Homo sapiens: one gene and its partners. The protein of the gene in region 1 binds, or shares a complex with, the protein of each later gene. Each region holds a gene or a part of one and is shown on either strand. Other genes may lie near its edges.

Region 1 (7,883 bases):
AGTTTGTTTGAATCCAAAGCCCATGAGAAACCTTTTTGATTTGCATATTATTATAGGAAATAGGAATTTGTTGTTCCCAGAGATTTCTTGCTACAATTTTTTCACTGTGCAGTAAGCTACCCATTTGCTCACAATAAGCCCCATAAAGACAAAAAGGTAGGATCCTTTTCTGGCATGTCATAAAATTGAGGAACCTTCTTTTTTTTTTTTTTTTTTTTTAATTGAGACAGGGGTCCGCTCTGTCATCCAGGCTGGAGTGCAGTGGCGTGTCTTGGCTCACTGCAGCCTCTGCCTCTTGTGTTCAAGCGATTCTCATGCCTCAGCCTCCCGAGCAGCTGGGATTACAGGCATGCGCCACCACGCCCAGCTGATTATTGTATTTTTAGTAGAGATGAGGTTTTGCCATGTCGGCCAGGCTGGTCTTGAACTCCTGGCCTCAGGTGATCTGCCTGCCTTGGCCTCTCAAAGTGCTGAGATTACAGGTGTGAGCTACTGCACCCAACCAAAATTGATGAACATTCTTGAACTTAGTTATCTACTTACAGAAGATAGATGATATTTAGCTTCCCAAACAGCTTGCAGGTAAATTTTCTAATAAGGCTTTTGATACAATAAACATCCTGTGATTCTGTTCTTCGGCAATGAACAACTTCTACCTTTCCTCTTGGAGAAGTGAGTACTGACATTTTTTATCCTGTCCCCAAAAGAGAGAAAAAAGTCCACTATTAATCTGATATGATAAGCCAGTTTGGTTATAATACACACAAAACTGAACACTAATTCAATTTCCATGTGGTCAGAGTGAACATGGTGTGAGAATACTGGTGTGACACGTTTTCCCCTGGGTGTAGTCTGTGACAACTGTCACTGCAAACCAGCTGACGTTCCTCCATAGGAGAATGAAGTTTCTGAGAACTGGCCTGTTTAGAAGTTTCTGCAACTATATTCTTTGTTTCCAACAAAGCTGCTTTAAAAAATTCTAACAATAGAATTGGAAAAACATTGAAAGGAATTATTTACGGATTCAGGGTCCTCTTATATTTAATCGGCCACGATGGCATGTGGTGAAGAGTTACTGGGGAAATACTGACAGCTGCTGCCTATGTTCTTAATAGAGTTCTCCAAACTGGAGCCCTGAAGGTCAGCAGTCTTGAGACATATTTTGAGACCAAAAAAGTTCTGTGGTTAAGTGTAGGAAATGCTCGCAATAGGCTTCCTGAAGGGCCACCAGGCCCATTAACATCTTTGAGAGGTTCCATAATAAAGCAACTTGTTTTCTTTGTATAACCCAGCCTTTCCGACACTCTTTGGGAAGAGAATCTCTAATGACGGCAACAGTGGAGAACCTAACGTTCCAGAAGGACACTTTGGGAAATGCTGTTGACAAAAACAGTAGGTCACAAAATGATTTCAATTTCTCTCTCATTGTCTCAATTTCTGTAAGTCTCTCTTCTCTCTTTCCCTCCCTTCTTTCCTTCATAGGGAAAGCCATTTTATTATATACTAGCCAGTGAGCTCAAAACAGGGAAAACAATGAAGGAGAAATTAATAATGTCTAGACTCCTATCGAAGCTAACCATAAATATTGTCATTCCTTGTTCTGGTTTTAAATTGAAAGCAAAATTGGAATGAGACATCTTGTTTGTGAAACATATCATAAACTAATGCTACAAGTATATAAAAATTCTGAATAAAATAAGGAAGTATAATTAATTAGATAACTGACTTTGGTAAAAAGAAAACAAGAAAAGAAGAAAGAAAGCGAGCGAGGGAAATTCTCCAACCAGGTGGCAATGATGTGAGCCGATCTGACACAGGTTTTGGGGATAGAATGGACCTCACTCCAAACAGAGAATTAAAAATTAAACCATGCATCTACCTGGGACTTTGGATGGGCCCCTCGGTAAGTGAGGGGGCTAGAAAAATTAAACTCACCAGCCCAAGAAAGTGACAAGCTTTCTCTACACAAAGCTCTAGGTAGAAAATAAAGCAAAAATACTGCTGAGAAGTCCAAATTCTAGACTAAAGTGGGTATGGCATTCTAGTCCACACAATCTGTGTATTATGGGAGTCACCAAGAACTTTAGATGATAGACTCTGAAACAGACTACAAACTAAGTATGTTTATAATAAAGAAATATAGAAAGAGAAACAAAAGTCATGAGAAGAGAACAGGTCATTATTTAAAAAAGAACAGAAACTTAAAAAATGAAATACGTGGTTATTAAAATTTAAACTAAGAGGATGGGTTAAAAACAGAAGAATAAAGAAAATAAACTGGAAGATACTTATGAACAAATTATCTAGAAAGAAGCACATAGAAACAGAAAATACAGAATTCAGTAAAGACACATGTAAGACAGAATGAAAAACATCTGTCTTATGGGAATTCCAAAAGGAATAAATGAAACATTTGAAAATAATGGCTAATTACTTTTAGCATGGATGAAAGACATGAACCTTCAGTTCAGAGCAAAAAATACAAATAAACTCCAAATATATAGTAAAACTACAAAACCCTAAAGACAAACAGAAAACTTTAAAGGAACCTGACAAAAGACAGACTGTCTATAAAAAATAATTAGACTGACAGAATATTTCTCATGAGCAACATTAGAAGCCAGTAGCACGGGGGTTAGCAAACTTCTGTAAAAGGCCAGAGAATAAATACATTAAGCTTTATGAGCCACATGTTGTCTACACAACTAGTCAACTCTGCCATTGTAGCACAGTAACAACCAGAGACAATATCGGCACAAATGAGCATGAATGTATTCCCACAAAATTTTACTTACATACACTGAAAGTTGACTTATGTATAATTTTCATGTGCCATGTAATTTTTAAAAAATGTTTAAAATGTAAACTACATATAAAGTTTAATGTAAAATGTGTGTGTGTATATGTGTATGTATGTGTGTGTGTATATATATATATATATATCCCTAGCTCATTCACAGTCCATACAAAATAGTCAATGGGCTGAATTTAGTCTACGGCCCATAGTTTTCTAACTACTAGAATAGTGTTTTAAAAATATAAAAGGAAAAAATAACCATTAACCTAGACTGATAAACCTAAACAATCACTTTAAAATGAAGATAAAATAAAGACAATTTCATACAAAGACTGAAAGAATTCAAAGAATCTTGTAGAAAGAACTAGGAGATGGTATATTCTGAGAAGAATAAAATCAGAAAGAAGTGGAATACAAGATTAAATGCTGGGAAATAAGAAGGTAAACATGAAGGTATATCTACAAAAGCATTGATGGCAAAAAGTAAGAAGGATAATACATTTTTCCTAAAAAAAAAAAAAAAAAAAAACAAACAAAAAAAACACACACAGAGATGAACTGAATTGCCAGACAACAGAAATGTAAGAGAGAAGGATGGTGATCAGAAGCAAAGTATTCTAGCATGTTTGTACTTTTGAGCAAAGGCAACAGATGATTAAACCAATGATTCATTTGGTAAATCAATTGTTTACAGTAACACATTTAAGGAAAATCACTTCAAAGAAACATCTTTTTAATATTTATTTATTTTGTTAGGTGGCTTTATGAAAGTGATATAAAATCTTCTCTATTTAAATTTTGAAAAGTGAGATAAAATATCTAAATAATATGGTTAATAAAGAGTTATGGCAAATACATTGATGTTGGTTATAACTGACTGCAGTTCTAGAAATCTGCATAAATCTTTTGTTGAAAGTAATATCTGCATTGGTAGACGTGATATTACTACATACATAAATATATATTTTCCCCAAACACCAAAAGAGCTTTGCAACTGTGGAAATTATCCTAACAAATGAGCTGCCAAGTCATGTCATTATACATTTGTCCAACCTCATAGAATGTACACCAAGAGTGAACCCTAATATAAACTATGAACTTTGGGTGATAATGATGTGTCAATGTAGGTTCAAGATTGTAACAAATGTACTGCTCTGGTGGAGGATATTTTTAAGAGTTGGAGGCTGTTAGAGGAGGGAAGAGGTACAATAATTGATAGCAGGAAGCTGTGGAGGGAGGAAATCTCTGTGTCTTCCACTTAATTTTGTTGTGAACCTAAAACTTCTCTAAAAATGTCTATTAAAAAAAATTCTCTTAACCTTTGCTTTTCAGTTTTTGAGGGCAGGTTAAGTATTATAACAGCTAACATCTACTGAGCATTTGTCTTTAATCCTAGTGAAACAGATGTTATTAGCCTTGTTTTATAGTTGAGGACATTGAGGCTAAGAAAATTTAACTAGAGTAATTAAGGCACACACAGAATTTAAACATGTTTCTTATCACAAGACTGAGTTGTTTTCCAGTTACTCTATTTATATTTTTTCCTAATATCTGGCTTCAAAGTACCTTCTGTTATTTTTAATTCCAAGCCTTAGAGTTAATTATTTGGGCACCTTAGAATTATTTGGGCACAACTGTCCCGAAACCAGAAACGAGGGGGCGTGGACCCAGAGACTACTAGAATGCAATGCTCGAGGCATTGCAGCCTAAAAGGGCGGCAGCTCGCCCCGTCGCATGCTGGGAATGGTAGTTTCCTCGCTCTCCCTTCTTCCCCCGCCCTCGAGCATCCAGATTGGAGCTCCGTTCTTACTCCCTTGCAGGGCGCCACGGCTCGACAGAGCCACTCGTCCTCGCCTGGTCATCCCAGTTCCGGAGGCTGACCTGGGGATGCGCCCTGGACGCCCTGCACCGCAGTCCTTGCGTCGCTGCTAGTCAGCACGGCGTTACCCACCTCATCCGCAGCTCCAGGACGCCGCACTCCACGCGCTGCCGCAAGGAGGACGCGCAGCCTGGTCACCATGGAAACGGTGCCGCCTCCGTCACGGCTCAAGCGAGAGGTCAAAGGTCAGTCCTGCAAGTTCCGCTTCCGGTTCCGAGATCCTGTTTGTTTTCTGAAAGCTTTGTGGTTTCGGTGAGCTCTCAGAGCCGATTTCTAGCGTCCGTGCCGGGGACAGGTGTCCAGAGGTCGACTGCTGCAGACATGGCGGCCTCCACCGCGGCCGGGAAGCAGCGGATTCCCAAAGTGGCCAAGGTAGGCGATCGCGAGGGGCCTTGTAGGAGGTGGCCTAGGAAAGGGGCATCCCTCAGCCCTGAGGGTGCCCGGGTTGGGAGAGAGTGTTCCCGCCGGGGAGAAGGCTCACCCTGAGAGATGGAGAGGAAGGGCAGCTGGTGGTGGGGCGCGGGCTCTTGTCATCGCGGAGCACGACCCGCGTTGGCGTGGCCTTCGTTCTGGGGTGGTTTTGCTGGGGAGTGGAGTGGGGTGGTTCGGTGAAGATTTACTGAGCCAGGCACTGCACTGGGCGCTGGGAAGCTACGCTCGTACGCTGGCCACAAGCAGTACTCAAAACACGAGTTTCTGTATAAAGACGACCTTGCTAGATGTTACCGAGAGGCAAAGTAGAATATGCCATGGGCGTGAATAAGGGGGTCGTATGAAGGGGTCCTGAAAGTAAATTTTGCTGAGGAAATGACCTTTAAGCTGAGACTTGAAGGCTGAATAGGAGTTAGCCCAGCTGACAGCGGAGGGCGAGAGTAGACGGTAGGAGTAGTATAGTATCATAAGTTAATTAAACAGTAGACTTACTATCTGGTATTTCCTTTGATAGCTAATACTTACCAAGTGCTTAATATGTGGCAGACTTTGAAGCCTTTACAGATACCCTCCCTCCAGTCTTTCTTGAGCCCGGATGACTCTCTTGAACTGGACCTTTACATAACTATTTGTCTGACTCGCAGGAGTAATGCATATAGAGCAAGTAACACTGTGTCTGGCACTTAGTGCTTATTAAATATGAGCTATCACCATTATCATCATTACTCCACATGTGGCATTAAGTAACATTTTTTATAATTCAGCTACATAAACTTTTATTGGGCATCACTGGTCCAATGGAAATATAATGCACACCACATATGAAATTTTAAATTTTCTCATATCTACATTAAAAAGTAAAAACAAAGCAAAAAAGTGAAATTAATTTTGATAATATATATTTTATTTGAGCTAATGTATCCAAAATATTATCATTTCAACATGTAATCGGTATAAAAAATGTAATGAGGTAGTTTATTCTTTTTTATACTTCATCTTCAAAACCAATGTGTATTTTACACTTACAGTCCACCTCAATTTGTACTCACCACATGTGACTCATAGCTACTGTGTTGGACAGCACAGCTCTAAGCTACGTTAGACTGTAAGCTTCTAAGACCTCAAGAAGCTTACAGTCTAATGATGAGAACTTACTGAAATTGCCTTTGACTTGAAGTGCCATGTAAAACCAAACCCAGTTATACACCGGGGCATTAAATAAGTTGAAGAATTCTGTAAATGCAGGTTGTAATGCTGTTAATAAGATGTGCTACACATTTTGATAAAACAAAACCTCTGGTCAGAATTTTACCTAGACGGCCTCAAAGTTTATTATTATACTCATCTAAAAGGGAAAACTTGCTATTATTTTTGCCACCTTTTTCTCTTGAGACTTTTACCTATGGCTTTGCAGTAGATACTATGAATAAGAGAGAAAACGGTATTTTTTTTTTCTTTTCAGTCTCATGGAGGAATGGGAACATGTCATACAAAAAGGGCATCTTGTGATAATACTAACAAAGTTCATATCCTAAAAAATGTATGTTTGTTTCTTAAGCCTTGTGTGAAGAGCAACTACTAAAAATAGAAATGTCTTCTTTCTTAAAAGGTGAAAAACAAAGCCCCGGCTGAGGTACAGATAACTGCTGAACAACTCTTAAGAGAGGCTAAAGAAAGAGAACTTGAGCTTCTTCCACCTCCACCTCAACAGAAGATCACAGATGAAGAAGAATTAAATGATTATAAACTAAGGAAAAGGAAGGTCAGTCAGTGTGGTATCTTTCAGTCCACTAATTGTTAAGACTGTATCGGTCAGTTTGAAAAGCTCCTCATTGGTTGGATTCTGTAGGGCAAGATGAGGTTAAGTGTTTCCAGACGCATGAATAATGTACTTCTGGTTACCAGATAACAGCATTTTTCTGAACTATATAAAATATGCCATGAGTTGTCTGGTTAAAGTGTAAAGAAATTGAATCTGCATAATTTTTGATGCTGAATCAAAGTGAGCGGAAGTTTAGCAGATGGAACAACTGACAACAAGAAGGAGGGTATGCTTAGTAAGGCTGCACTGTGTACTTCTGTCTATACCACCTTCTGTGTTAAGAATTGAGATCTGGCTGGGCACAGTGGCTCGCGCCTGTAATCCCAACACTTTGGGAGGCCGAGGCGGGCAGATCACCTGAGGTCAGGAGTTTGAGACCAGCCTAGCCAACATGGTGAAACCCCATCTCTACTAAAATACAAAAATTAGCCAGGCGTGGTGGCAGGTGCCTGTAATCCCAGCTATTCGGGAGGCTGAGACATGAGAATCACAGCAACTCGGGAGGCAGAGGCTGCAGTGAGCCGAGATCGTGCCACTGCACTCCAGCCTGGGCGACAGAGCAAGACTTTGTCTCAAAAAAAAAAAAAGAAAGAAAGAAAGAAAGGAAAAGGAATTGAGGTCTGCAAAAGGACCATGAGAAGACTTTGGGATCTGATTTGACCTCTTCACTCTAGAATGTGGGACTGTTTTAAAGCACTAATGCTGTTATATATGAAATTCTGAGAATTACCAGAGGACTTAAAGGTAATAGTCAAAAACATTTTTTATTAGGGACAAGCATAGACCATTTTAAAGTATCAGTTAGTTGACTGTAACCTTCTGTAGTGGGTTTCTTATTCCTCAAGGATTCCAGGATGTAATTTCTCTTAAATATGAACAAAATGAATAACCATTTTAGTACAAGACTTAAAATAGACCAAGGGTGCTGTCATTTTTAGTCATTTGTCTTTTGA
Region 2 (7,026 bases), on another chromosome or scaffold:
ATCATACTAAGTAAGAGAATTGGCCACCTTCTCTTTGGCTTTTAACTGGCTTCTGAAAAGTAGCTGATTATAGGGCCAGTAAGCTCCTTTTACCAGTATTAAAGTAATTCATTTGCTGTTATACTTTGAGAAAAGTATTTTTATGAATTTTTTATAAAATTCTCAGAAAATTCTCATTATAGAAGTAATGAAGCTTATAAGTAATTCAGACAGAAATAGCATAACTTGGAAGTTTTCCATAATCCGTGGGGGAATATATCTATATTCCATAGATATAATTGCTATTACTAGTTTAGTGTCTGGTTATTTTTCAAAACCCCAACTGTACCAGTGTTCTTTTTTTTACATCATTCTAAAATGAGCATAAGATAAAATATTTGAATCTTGGATATATCACTTTAAACAAAAATTAGTGGCTAAGTCTACCCAAAGTAGAGTCCTAGTGCACTGGTAGCAGTTTTTGTGCCTTCTTGCAATACGTTTCACCTGGCTTGGGAAGAAATGCCGATGATTAAGCTTCCAGTTATTTTGGACAGAATTTTTTGTTTGAGTCTTTTAAAGTTCTTTTCAGGGAACCAAATCAATTTGGAAATAAAGAGGGGAAAAATCAAGTAAGCTCTGTAAAGTTACTTTGTTTCTGCAGTCAGGTTTTTCAGAGTCCCATATTTTGAAAATTTTCTTTGGGGAGGGGTTGTTAAGATATATTGAACTATTACTACTGTTGCAAAGAATTGATGTGTTGTGCTCATAGAGGAAATTAGTGAGGTAAATGGTCAGTCAATTTTCAGGCATCACACTTTTCTAATTCCCTTTTAGGAGAAAAGTAATGCTGGTGCTTCCTAGTACAAGATTAGTGGAAACAGCTATTTCTTATACTGGAGTTTTGCAAACAGCATGTTTAAATTGTGCTTACTCAGCCATTTAGCAGTCAATATTTTACAGATTGTTTAAGATTCCCTTTCAGCCAGTTTTTATCTCACACTTAAGGTAGGGTTTCTTTTTTTCAGGTTCTCAGGAATTCTTCCGCCAAAGGTGAATTCTGCAGGTACACATAATTGCAACAGAACTTAACACAAATTTTGCCGCAGAATTCGAGAGGCCCCTGCTTCTAAGTTTATGTAGCTAAATGAATTCTTAGTTTTGCACATCTTTTTTAAAAATGCAACCTAAAGGTTTCTCAACATTGTGTTATTAAATGGAAAATACCTTGCCCCCAAATTTTATATGCAAACTCCAAAACACCAATACCATTCCTAAGGCAGAAGGACTAGTTAGTTATTTTATTATAGCATTCAACCTGACAAGTTTTATAACTGGAGAGAGAACACAGACAGAAGTATTTATCAGATTAAGTTGTTTATATTAATCTCAGAACTAGCTGTTTCCTGGCCTAGGTTATGGTTTTTTCCCCCATTCTTTTGGACTCATTTATGTGCTTAGCTACATAAACTCAAAAGTCGGATTAAAATAGCTGTATTTTTGTGTAAACTGTTCATACCTGTAAGGCCGTTCTTTATAAGTGTGCAATTAGTGAATATGAATACTTTATTCCACAGAAGAAGACGTTCGTCAGCATCCTTGTCTGGGAGTAGCTCATCATCCTCTTCATCTCGTTCACGGTCACCACCAAAGAAGCCTCCCAAGAGGACATCCAGCCCCCCTCGGAAAACTCGTAGGTTATCTCCTTCAGCAAGTCCTCCAAGGCGAAGGCACAGGCCATCACCTCCTGCAACTCCACCACCCAAAACTCGGCATTCCCCTACACCCCAGCAGTCAAACCGTACAAGAAAAAGTCGTGTTTCTGTGTCTCCAGGGAGAACTTCAGGTAAAGGTAAAAATCAAACACATATGAAACATGGTCTCTCTTTCTTTGGCTACAAAGCGTAGTCAGTTATTGCCCCCTGCTCACTCTCAAAGTATGAAATAGCTAGATAATATTTGTATCTAATACTCTCTGTAGGTTTACTTATAAGCCTACCTCTTTCCTGCTTTAAAATCTTGGGGCTTTTTTATGTGTAAAAGGGTTTTGTTTTTAGCAATGCCCTGTGGCATTGCGCAGGTGGAGAAATCTTTTACCAGCCGTGGGCTGTTTGAGTTGGGGTAACATATCAAAGTTTGCGTTGGCATGATAAGGGATCATTTTATTACTATGAGACCAGTTAACTTTTTTTTCTCCTGAAGATTTTTGGTTTGATATCTTAAATAAGAGGACTTCATATTCTCTTTTAGTTCTTTCTTGGTCGCATTGCGCTCCCAAGCAAAGGACATGGTGTCCTCTTAAAAGCTGATTTGTTTTTTTAATTTAGGTTCTAGGCAGGGTTCTTCTGAGTGTTGTCCTTGCTTTATTCTGCAGATTGATTTCTGAGGAATTTATGATCTGTGAACCTGCCAGGCAAGTAGAATGCTGTGTTAGTCTGAGTGAAGGTTGTGGTCTATTGGGGTTTGTTCTGTGAGCATTAAATACGCATGGAAAAAACTGTAGTGTCCATTTGAACCAGGCTCTCTGGAGCTTAGGGCTGGAATGATATACAGCCTAAAAGGTGAGTAGTAAGGGATGGGGAGGATCTTAAAAGCTGCTAAAGCAATTGAGTTTTAAGGAGCAATCTGTAGGTTAACACACGCTGGGGTTATTATGATCATATTGAAAATTTCAGGTTAGAGCCAGGTGTGGTGGCATGAGCCTGTGGTCCCAGCTACTCAGAAGGCTAAGGCAGGAAGATCACTTGATCCCAGAAGTTCAAGGCTGGCCTCAGCCCCATAGCGAGATCCTGACTCTTAAAAAAAGAGAGAGAAAAAATTTCAGGTTAGAAACAAAGAAATGGGGATGGGCAAAATTTTCATTATACATTTTAATGAGCTTGATGAGACCAGCATTGCTAATTATTCACCCTGTTGCCTTATCTCCCCACTCCCCAAGGCTGCAATGTGGTGATACCTAGAAAGGCAAATTTTGCTTTCCTTTTTTGTATCTGTGACAATGAGGCATAGATAAGCTGACAGAGTGAAAGGGTGACCAGCAGATTATGATAGTCTGTAAAAAGTAATGTTTTCTGAATTGTGACATTTTTATTGTAGTGATAGGTTCATTAAATAAGACATGGCCACTTTTGTTGGCCCCTTAGAGAAGCAGCTAGTGAAAGTAGAGAAGCCTGTAACTGTTCCAGGTTCAGTCCTCAGTTTGAGAGAGGGGCTTCGGGATCACTGTTTTCATAACCTCATGTACCATACTGCTTTTCAGCATTGGGAAAATTTCAGTCCATTTTCAGTTACCATGTCCAAATCTGATGCCCATGGCCCTGGCCTATTTTGTCTTTTCCTGTAAAGTTTGTACTTCTGAATATTTATTCTTTGTCTGGAGCCACAAAGCTCTCCAGGGAAAAAAACAAGTGTTTTTACCTGTTACTTTGCAAAAACACATCAAGTGATGATTTTTTTCTATTTATATCATATAGCCTAAGAGTTGCAAAAGTACCTGAACAGAGGGACCAATCCTTGTTAAAATAGGTTGATTGTTAAGAATTATTAGGTACTTTTAAAAAGCATCTGCACAGATGCTAATTTCTTGTGTTTTGGCATATACTTTTTGCAAACAAGACAAGAGTGGATATGTACATAGGAAAGAAGTAAGCCATGGTGAAAATAAGTATTTCTGTGGGTTTTGGGACAGGGCTTCCGTGTTCAAACAACCTACCCAAAGAGAGGCACTACAGGCAGTGTAGTCAGTCTCCCCTGTGACCACTGGAGCTGAATATTGGTTTGACCTACTTGGAAATAACCTCTCCCCACCACCCCGCTAAATAGAGCCAGCATCTCACTCTGTCACTCGGGCTGGAGTGCAGTGGCCCAGTCATAGCTCACTGCAGCCTCCAACCCCTGGGATTACAAGTGTGAGCCACCACACCCGGCCCAGACAACCTTTTATATTAAACTGATCCCAGCCCTCTGTGATGAAATTTCAGAGCTAGAAAAGACCTTAACAGTTGTCATCAAGAAACAGATTTTCAGGTTAGTTGACTTGGTCAAGGTCAACCAACTAGGAATAAAACTTGAGTTGTCATTCCCAGTTAAATAGTGAATACTTTTCACAACTTTCCTACCCCAGAACTCTTCTTTGATTGCTAAAGGTGAGAAATGGAGGGCAGGGTTGAAATTCTTTAGCTTCTCTATCTGGTAGTATGATTTCAGAAATTACTTTGCAGTTTCTGCTGCTTAGAACAGTAACATCATTGAAATGTAATAGATATTACAGTTAATATTTTCCCTAGTGGCCACTAATCAGGGCTTTAGGGCTCTGCTCTTGATAGTGGGCAAATGGAGTGGGAGGGAGGCAGGAAAAGTGTTTTGGGGAACTTACAGGTTAATTATTTGGAATACAGTATACAGTCATCTGAAGGGATCTTAGGGGAAACATTTGTAATTACTGACATTTCATAAATTGGCATTATCTTAGTACATAAAATAGTGCTTGAAATCAGTGGCACAGTCAGCGAAGTATGTTAACATGATCAATACTGGTGGTGACGGTGTGGTAATTTTGATTTATTTAGATTAGCTTGGCCACATACATTGTGCTATCTGGACACTTAAATGGTTATTTTACTATTGTTGGTCACAGAGTAACTTATCTTTATAAGTGATCTTTTGGGCAGGTCTAAGATTAATAATTAATAGGACTGTTGGAGTAAATTTAAAATTGTGGTTTTAAAGTTGCCTTCTACGATTTCTGACTTCATGCTAGAATGATTTTGTCCCTTGAATACTTAAAACAACATTAACATAAAGTAAATGGTGTAAAGTCTCATCTAGAAAAATAGAAATCTGAAGTGCTGTTATAATATTAATAATGCTGTGATTCAATTGTATTAAACCAGAGTAGGAGTATATAAATGATAGTTGTTTGATGGTATAAATTTTTTTTTTTTTTTTTTTGGAGACGGAGTCTTGCTCTGTCGCCCAGGCTGGAGTGCAATGGTGCAGTCTTGGCTCACTGCAACCTCTGCCTCCCAGGTTCAAGCAATTCTCCTGCCTCAGCCTCACGAGTAGCTGGGATTACAGGCACATGCCACCACACCCAGCTAATACAAATGTATTAATAAAGACTACTTTAGCTGAGTAATTAGTGAGAAATTGAATCAGGATGCAACTCCAGATGTGTATTTCCACTGGGGGAGAATGGAAATAATGTTAAATTCACTTGTATTATATAATGAGTAGGCTTTTGCCAACTATCTTGTAAGCATAACCACATTTTTAATGTTTCTTAGGGGAAAATGTATCCAAACAATCAGCTTCCAAAGCAAGCTTGGGAACCCAGTTCTCTAAGGTGTGGTAACTTGGACATGCACTTTTTAACGACGTGCCCATAATATCTTTGCAGAAATTGAGGATTAAGTAACACTTAAAAATAGAGAATATGGACTTAGAAAAAGAGCCTCAAATAGTTAACAATTTTAAAATATTTTTATTTCTTTGAATTTGTTAAAATATAAGTATTAAGTATAGTTTGCTATTTGCACTGTCATGATTCCTGATATCTAATTGAGTGATAGCCATTCTTTACCCAATCCAGTGATTTGTCCAAATGGCTTATTACGTAGAAATTTTAAGAAAAGTCGCTGGGCGCGGTGGCTCACGCCTGTAATCCCAGCACTTTGGGAGGCAGAGGTGGGTGGATCACCCGAGGTTGGGAGTTCAAGACCCGCGTGACCAACATGGAGAAACCCTGTCTCTACTAAAAATACAAAATTAGCCGGGCGTGGTTGGCGCATGCCTGTAATCCCAGCTACTCAGGTGGCTGAGGCAGGAGAATCCCTTGAACCCGGGAGGCGGAGGTTGCAGTGAGCCGAGATCATGCCATTGCACTCCAGCCTAGGCAACAAGAGCGAAACTCTGTCTCAAAAAAAAAAAAAGAGAGAGAAAGGGAAAAGTCTGTTCATTGAAAAGGCATACTGGTAAATTCTTCATTTTGACTTCTTTAGCAAAGATGCGATTACTGTGTTAGATCACTGGTTCTCTAATTACTGCCCCTTGGAATAAACCATTACAGAATTCTGAATGTGAGTGTCTGTTAAATGAGATGTATCTGTATTCTGAGTCAAACATTCCATGGCAATTGCTTTAATCACACAAAACAGGTATCAGGATCCTGAGAGGATCAAATTGTCTGTAGGTTTATTTCTTATTGGGATGTTCTCAAGTGGTGTTTTAGGTTAATTTATGGTATATATATGTTTATATGTGAATATACTTATGATTTTAGTTGTAGCAATGGATAGATACTATAAGCAGAGTTAGTTGTTGAGATTAAAACCCATGGCCTAAAAATAGATTCTTGGATTCACATCTTAGCTCACTTAAATTGTCTTTGTGACTGAGGTGAAGTTGCTTCTTTTTAAGCCTCAGGTTTCCTCTCTTGTGAAATGGAACAGGGAGAAAGGGATGTGATACTACTGTGTTAATAGTGTGTCTAATACAGCAGGCTTACAAAAGGTAGTTACCATATTTCTATGTTATTGGTAAAAGACAATTGGATAATTCATAGGATACCCACTGCTCTCCTACTACTTGAGGTATAGAAATGCCTTTTTTTCTTTCTAGCTCTTTGGAAAGAATCCTCGTCTTTGTATTTAATCATTTTTACTATTTGTGGCGGTCTGCTTTTTTTCATGGGTAGTTTAAATCCCCTGTGCTATTGTGAAGATTATGCTCTACATAAAGAACCTTTAACCTGTTGGGCAGTCATTCTTCTTTTCTAGACCAAATATCTTTGTGAAAGTTTCATGAGATCTTATTTCTTAATCATTTATCATCTTTTACTTTTCTGAACCCACCTATTGTGGTTGCTTAAAAGCTTTCATGTTGATGAAGTCTCTGAAGTTGAGTGTGAGGGAGTGAGTGTGGGTGTGGAGGGTGTGTATTTTAGATTGTGGAGCTCGTGTAGCACACAGAGGTTTACTTTACTGAGCTTGTTCTACTCAGTAGCAGCTCCCAATTTCCTTTAACTGTTGGTTTTCTTGGGAGAATCTC
Region 3 (7,026 bases), on another chromosome or scaffold:
GACCTCATGATCCACCCACCTCAGCATCCCAAAGTGCTGAGATTACAGGTGTGAGCCACCGTGCCCAGCAGATTACTCTTAAATTACCTATGAAGTCACTACTTTGGGCTAAATAAACCTAATTCCTTTAACTTTCCATTATGAGGTAAGCTTTTCAGTCATTGGATTATCAGATAAAGTTTCATCTTTGAATTAAAATCTTTAATTAAAAAAATTCTTAACTAGAAACGGTGCCCAAATAAATTAGAGATAAAATTTGAGTTGTGATGTTAACATAGTATAAAGCCTTAATCCAATAGTTTAAAAATACTAAGAATCAATTCCTCTTAAACGACAATGTAAGTGCTGTATCTCGTAATAATCATGCTCCTACCTCACAGCTTTTTATTTTGTGTGGATTATGTGGTCTTTCGTCATCATCAATGTCTACTTCTGACAGTCGCAACATGTTATATACTGTATCCCCTGTAACCTATCAAATTAAAAATATAATGTAATTGAAAATTATTGCACTCATCCTTTGAATTAAGAGAAAACCTTTGAAAACATCTTTCAAATAATTAAAAGAAAATTTCATGTGATTACATAAAAATATATGCATTTAATAATGCAAATAAAGCAACTTTATCTTAAAGGAGAAAAGCATGGATGGAGTTCAATCCCCCAATAAGTTTTTTGGAAATTTCCAATATATATTTAATGTAAGTTTTTATTAATAATATAATGCCAAATAATCTCCTACTGAATGACAACTTTTCATTCAAACATCATAAACAAATTTAAACTTTGGAATAGGATAAAATAAGCAAATAACAATAACAATGTGGTAAATGCTTTAGAGACATTATCTCATTTAATCCTCACAAACAACCTAAAAGTAGGAACTAATATTATCCTTCTACAGATAAGAAAAATGAGGATCAAAGAAGGTATAAAACCAACAGTGATGGCCTTTCTAACTTCTAACTATGCTACACATTGTCTCTGATGTGTTAGTTATATAACCCAATTGTAAAAACTGATGCAGAATGGCAACTTAAATCTCATTTTATTACACACTCTTATTTTTAAGGAATAAATGGAGGGAATCTATAAACATCAGACAGGCTGTGCTGGAGTGGCTCAAAAGAATGTGCCAATGCATATTTCCTAACCCACTGTTATTAATAAGTATTAACCAACAACATTGCAACATATAGTTTTAGTGTGATTCCTTTCATTCAGTGTTTTTCAAGAGTTTTAAAACAACACCAGCTTTCCAATTGTACTGAATTTGTTTTTTTCCCTTTCATCACCACAAAAATCCAGTTTTGCCCAGTATATGGGGAAACCATTCTTACTGAACCAGCAGAGGGCGCTGATGCACTAGTGATGTCCGATATGCCTAAGACTTAAAACATATAGAAACATATTTATGAGAATGGAGAAGAGTGAGAGAAGAAAACCTTCAGAATCCCTTTTTAAAGGGAATTGTTAAAAATTCTATAGAAAGGACGTTCCCTAATATGACATTAAATGTGAGCAGGATTAAATAGGTACTATTCAAAGTAATATTTACAGTAAGAAGTTTCAATGTCAACACAAATTCCACTTTAAACTTAAGAAAATCCATCATTAAGAAAATAAACTGTAAACTACTAAATATTATTACCTAAATGTCCTTCCAAAAGTGTAAAATCAATATTGGCTAAGTGGCACATTTTAGCTCATACCATTACTATGATTTTAAAGAAGGAATACACTAAAGTCACAACTAATGACTGAATTGAAAGATCCAAAAAGAACTTAGATGCTCCCTCATAGTGCACTATATTAGGAATATATTCCATCATTTTTGAAAATAATAAACATATCCTATGGAATGTTTTTACAAAGGTAGCTCTTAGATAAGTTAATCATATGTATCTTAGAAGTCTAAGGAATAACATAAAACCAAAAACTGAACCACAGGTTTAAAATCACTGGACACTAACCTTTCCAAAGATGGTATGCTTATTGTTAAGTTCATCTGCTCGACCCAGTGTGAAGAAAAACTGGCTGCCATTATCATGAGAACCAGCATTTGCCATGGCAACCAGTCCTCTCCGATTAAAACGCAACCGTGAATGAAATTCATCCTGAAATGTAAAAAGATTTAGTGAATGTCCTCAGTTATAAGACCCTTCATATGCAGTTATTCAACTTGACCTGCAAGGTCCCATACAACTTCTAATAAAAAATGCAGACATTTTACTTAATTGATTTTCAAGTATTTACTATTCTTTCAATGTTATTAAACTTGAATTCACTAGACTGTATCTTCTAAATATACTCAGACAGAAATATACCCTATTTTGTAGAAAGCTGCTTAGTTACATCTAAAGGAAGAGTACCCAAGGGGGAATGGATTTCTAAGTCATTTCCCTATTCTCATCCCAAAGTCAGCTATGCTTTTGAAATCTTCTATTATTTCTCCCAGAAAACTACCTTTGAGCCATTGCAGAGTATTCAATTATTACTCCTTCCCATCTCATTCTAAATGTCATTAAACAATTGCTTTGTTCTTGTTTTTTAATTCAAATAATCTACTATGATTGTGTTATGTAATTTTACCATGTCTTTTTAAAGTCCTAAGTTGAATCTTCTCTGAAATGGCACTGATTCTATTTGCCAGTTTTCAAAAGAGCAGGAACAAGCCTTTCTAAGGTGGTTTTCTCACCATGACAGGGCTACTTAACAAATATATTAGTCTCTTAGTTAACAGAATTTCCATCCAGCCTGATACAGAACTCATTTATAAATGTAGTCATGTTATATCATAAATGCTTTTCACAAAGGAAGATATTTTTCCTTAATAAATAATTCTCAAGAGATCTGAACTCAATGGATCATAACTCTGTATACTGTATTCAAAATGACCTAATTGAAAAATGTAACAAGATAACTGTATTACCTGAAAATAATGAAGCAAAAATCTCAAATTAGGAAGGAATTGTCAAAAACAGCTATTCTGTCACACCAAATAAAAGAATAAAAGAATGCTTCCGACTAGACGGAGTATCTAAAATCATGAGAAGTCTTACCATGGTAAAATATAAAATAGTCTAAAAGTGACATCTGAGACTTTTAAAATAACTATTCCACATTTCTAAGGCCATTATCATCTGGAAATTAAAGCTAACAGTTCAAGTATTTTCTTCAAGAATCACACAATGACTCATTAAAAGATGAAAGGAAAATGCAATCTATTCCCTTAATATAAAAACGAATTTTTCAAAAACTCCCATATTTTAAGAGATACCAATATTTACTCATTCAAAGAACATGATATTGGTGCCATCAAATTAATAACAAACACAACTTTTAGCTTTTACTTGAACCTGCTGTTGTTATTATCTTCACTATGACATTAACTCCTTTTCTTCTTAGATCTATGTTGGCAGTTAAGAAATCACTGACCTGTTCTTGATTAATGCATCTTTTACAGACAATTTATTTATTTATTTATTTATTTATTTATTTATTTGAGACGGAGTCTCGCTCTGTCGCCCAGGCTGGAGTGCATTGGTGCGATCTCCGCTCACTGCAACCTCCACCTCCCAGGTTCAGGCAATTCTCCTGCCTCAGCCTCCTGAGTAGCTGGGAATACAGGCGTGTGCCACCATGCCTGGCTAATTTTTGTAATTTTAGTAGAGATGAGGTTTCACCATGTTGGCCAGGCTGGTCTCAAACTCCCGACCTCAAGTGATCCGCCCCCCTCGGCTTCCCAAAGTGCTGGAATTACAGGCATGAGCTACTGCACCCAGCCTGATGTTTATATACTAATGTGAAACGTTTTTTCCTCTTGTGGAACACAATCATTTTCGATTAAGCAATCCAAACTGACTTGGAAATAATAATAACAACAAAAATAATAATAAAAATAATAATTCAGTCTTACTTTGAATGGCGCTCCATAGATAGACTCTCCACCACTCCCTGTGCCAGTAGGATCTCCGCCTTGGACTATGAAACCAGGCACAACTCTATGAAAAATGGTATTGTCATAATAAGCTGAAAAAAAAATAAAAATAATTTATCAATGTCTAAAATTAATCATCTCTACAGTTACCAAAATTAATACAGCTAGAGTCAAAAGATTTATTTTCCAGAATGTTAAATACGCTCCCCAGCCAAAACCTTTTGTATCCTCCTTCTTATAAAATAGTTACTTCTCAGAACAGCACACATTTCTACAGAAACCATCACTGTTGACTTCTTGTTTTTATTTCTAGGATTCTCTCAAACTCTGGACTGGTCTTCAAAACAGAAATTAGAGAGTTCTGATAGGGAGGAGAAGCAATATTGTGCCCCAGGGGACATTTGTCAATTTCTGAAAATATTTTTGGTTATCACAAATGGGGGATACTACTGGCATCCAGTGAGTAGGGGGCAGGGATACTGCTAAACACCCTATACTGCAAAAGACAGTTCCCACAACAGAGAATTACCAGCCCAAAATGTCAACTGTATGGAGACTGAGAAACCCTGGCAAAGATAAATACCTTATTTCCCACTGCTTCCTCTTTTCCTCACAGGAAATTAATTTATTAACACACAAACTCATAATATATCAAAATTACTTATTAGTTATAGGTCTAGAACCATCAATACACCCTCCTCAAGAAACTTTGAATAAATAAAACAAATAACACAATACATACTTGAGTCCAATTAGCTCAGTTTGCTAAATGATTGAAATAAATTATTAATATTTATATGTAATTCAAAAATATACAATTGGAGTATATAATTTAGAACTCATAAATATACAGGAGAGACTGTATATGACCTCCTATACTATATATTATCTGGAACCTAAAATCATTAGGATACTTCATAGAAGAAAAGGAAGTTAACTTGGGAATGGCAGAAGCATGGCATCTCAGTGAGGCAAAGTATAAGCGACAAATTGAGTGGGAAGCAGGAATTAGAATTTGCCTGAATAAGAGAATTTACATTAAGAAGTAGCAATAATGACCAACATGCATAACAAAAGATGCTCAATATTATTAGTCATTAGAGAAATGCAAATCAAAACCACAATCAGATACTACTTCACACCCACTAGAATGGCTAACATCAAAAACCTTAAAAGAATAAGTGTTGGTAAGGATGTGATGAAACTGGAACCCTTTTACATTGCTGGTGGGAATATAAAATAGTGTAAAAAGTTAAACACAGAATTAGCATGTAATCCAGCAATTATGATTCCGGTGTGTGTGTGTGTGTGTGCGCGCGTGTGCGCGTGTGTATACAAGTGATATATATGTTTATATATTAATATATAATTTATAAGTGTAAATATATATAGTTCACATAAATAATATATAATATATAAGTAATTATAGTTATAAGTAATTTTGATATATATTGTTTGATATATAAATTATATATAATATATATATCACTGTGCACATGATCAGATTTGCTTTTACAAAACATCATATATTTATATATATTGTTTCTATATATATCCAAAAGAATCGATTGTTTATATATATATCCAAAATATATATATTTGTATATACATCCAAAAGAGTTGAAAACAAGTACTCAAATACACACAAATGTTCATAGCAGCACTATTCACAAGAGCCAACAGGTGTAAACAATTCAAATGTCTATCAATGGATGAATGGATAAATAAAATGTGATATATACATATGATGGAATATGACTGTCACAAAAAGGAATGAAATACTCATACATGCTACAAAATGGATGAACTTCAAAAACATGCTAAGTGAAAGAACCCAAACACAAAGTCACATATTGTCTGACTCCATTTATAAGAAATATCTAGAATAGGTAAATCTGCAGAGATGGAAAATAGATTGGTGGTTGCTGGGGGCTGTGGGTGGAGGAGGGGTATATTAGTCCATTCTCACACTGCTATGAAGAAATACCCAAGACTGGATAATTCATAAAGGAAAGAGGTTTAATTGACAGTCCCACATTGCTGGGGAGGCCTCAGGAAACTTACAATCATGGCGGATGGCAAAGGAGAAGCAGGCACTTTCTTCAGGCAGCAGGATGGAGTGAGCGCAAGCAGGGGAAATGCCAGATGCTTATAAAACCATCAGATCTCATGAGACTCACTCATTATCACAAGAACAGTAAGGGAGAAAATGCCCCTATGATCCAATCACTTCCACCTGGTCCTGCCCTAGACATGTGGGGATTATGGGGTTTACAATTCAAGGTGAGATTTGGGTGGGGACACAGAGCCAAACCATATCAAGGGGAGAATAGAGAATGACTGGGTTAATGGATACAGAGTTTTCTTTTGGGGTAATAAAGTGTTTTAGAACTACATAGAGGTGCCGGCTGCACATTATAGTGAATATACTAAATGATGTTGAACTGTACACTTTAAAATGGTTAGTTCTATTTTATATAAACTTCACCACAGTTTTTTCAAAAAATCCGTTAGGTGGAAGGAAAGAAATTTTACATCACTGAAATTAGTTCTGTACTTACATTAGGTAAGCACAAGAGGAAAACATATGTAGTATGAAGTACTGAATAAACAAAAGCTATTATTTTTGTTGTTGTAAAAACAAACAAAAAGCAAATAGCAACAAAGCAGGTTGTGGTTGAGCCAATCATCGAGTTAGGCAGTCATGATTCAATCACATGCTGAGGGTTACAAAGCAGAAAGATGGAAAAAGCACAGTTCCCTAAAGATTTCACTGAGCTTCCCTAAAGATTTCACCAGATTTCTTGACATACAGGAGGATAAATGTCTTTATTATTTAAATCATTTTGAGTTGGGTCTTCTATTACCTGCAACTGAATACAACCTGAATATAACTCATTCAATGAAAAATATTTATCAAGTATCTACTGTGGGCCAGGCATTTTACTGATACAGTTACTGACATAATTTATAAAGTTCCTATTTTAGTGTCTTGGAGACACCCTCATAATTATTTATATTTGCAAAGTATAACTGGATATACAATGCATATTTTAAAAATTATAATCTGTATTCTAACAACTGTA

The links. Proteins that work in one complex are often made in the same cells at the same time.
Region 2: CRNKL1 (region 1) and SRRM1 share a complex: the UniProt entries of both Homo sapiens proteins name them as parts of the minor spliceosome.
Region 3: CRNKL1 (region 1) and CWC27 share a complex: the UniProt entries of both Homo sapiens proteins name them as parts of the minor spliceosome.

Annotation. Positions count from the first base shown.
Region 1 is NC_000020.11:20,049,457-20,057,339, reverse strand, and holds the start of CRNKL1 (crooked neck-like protein 1), read left to right. Parts: upstream 1-4,997; coding exon 4,998-5,048; intron 5,049-6,717; coding exon 6,718-6,870; intron 6,871-7,883. Other genes in the region: CFAP61 (cilia- and flagella-associated protein 61), read right to left, coding at 544-686. UniProt on the Homo sapiens protein: Involved in pre-mRNA splicing process. As a component of the minor spliceosome, involved in the splicing of U12-type introns in pre-mRNAs.
Region 2 is NC_000001.11:24,653,299-24,660,324, forward strand, and holds part of SRRM1 (serine/arginine repetitive matrix protein 1), read left to right. Parts: intron 1-1,007; coding exon of another isoform or gene 1,008-1,045; intron 1,046-1,556; coding exon 1,557-1,831; intron 1,832-2,353; coding exon of another isoform or gene 2,354-2,365; exon of another isoform or gene 2,366-2,392; intron 2,393-7,026. UniProt on the Homo sapiens protein: Part of pre- and post-splicing multiprotein mRNP complexes. As a component of the minor spliceosome, involved in the splicing of U12-type introns in pre-mRNAs. Involved in numerous pre-mRNA processing events.
Region 3 is NC_000005.10:64,778,927-64,785,952, reverse strand, and holds part of CWC27 (spliceosome-associated protein CWC27 homolog), read right to left. Parts: intron 4,033-7,026; coding exon 3,920-4,032; intron 2,118-3,919; coding exon 1,974-2,117; intron 473-1,973; coding exon 374-472; intron 1-373. UniProt on the Homo sapiens protein: As part of the spliceosome, plays a role in pre-mRNA splicing. Probable inactive PPIase with no peptidyl-prolyl cis-trans isomerase activity. As a component of the minor spliceosome, involved in the splicing of U12-type introns in pre-mRNAs.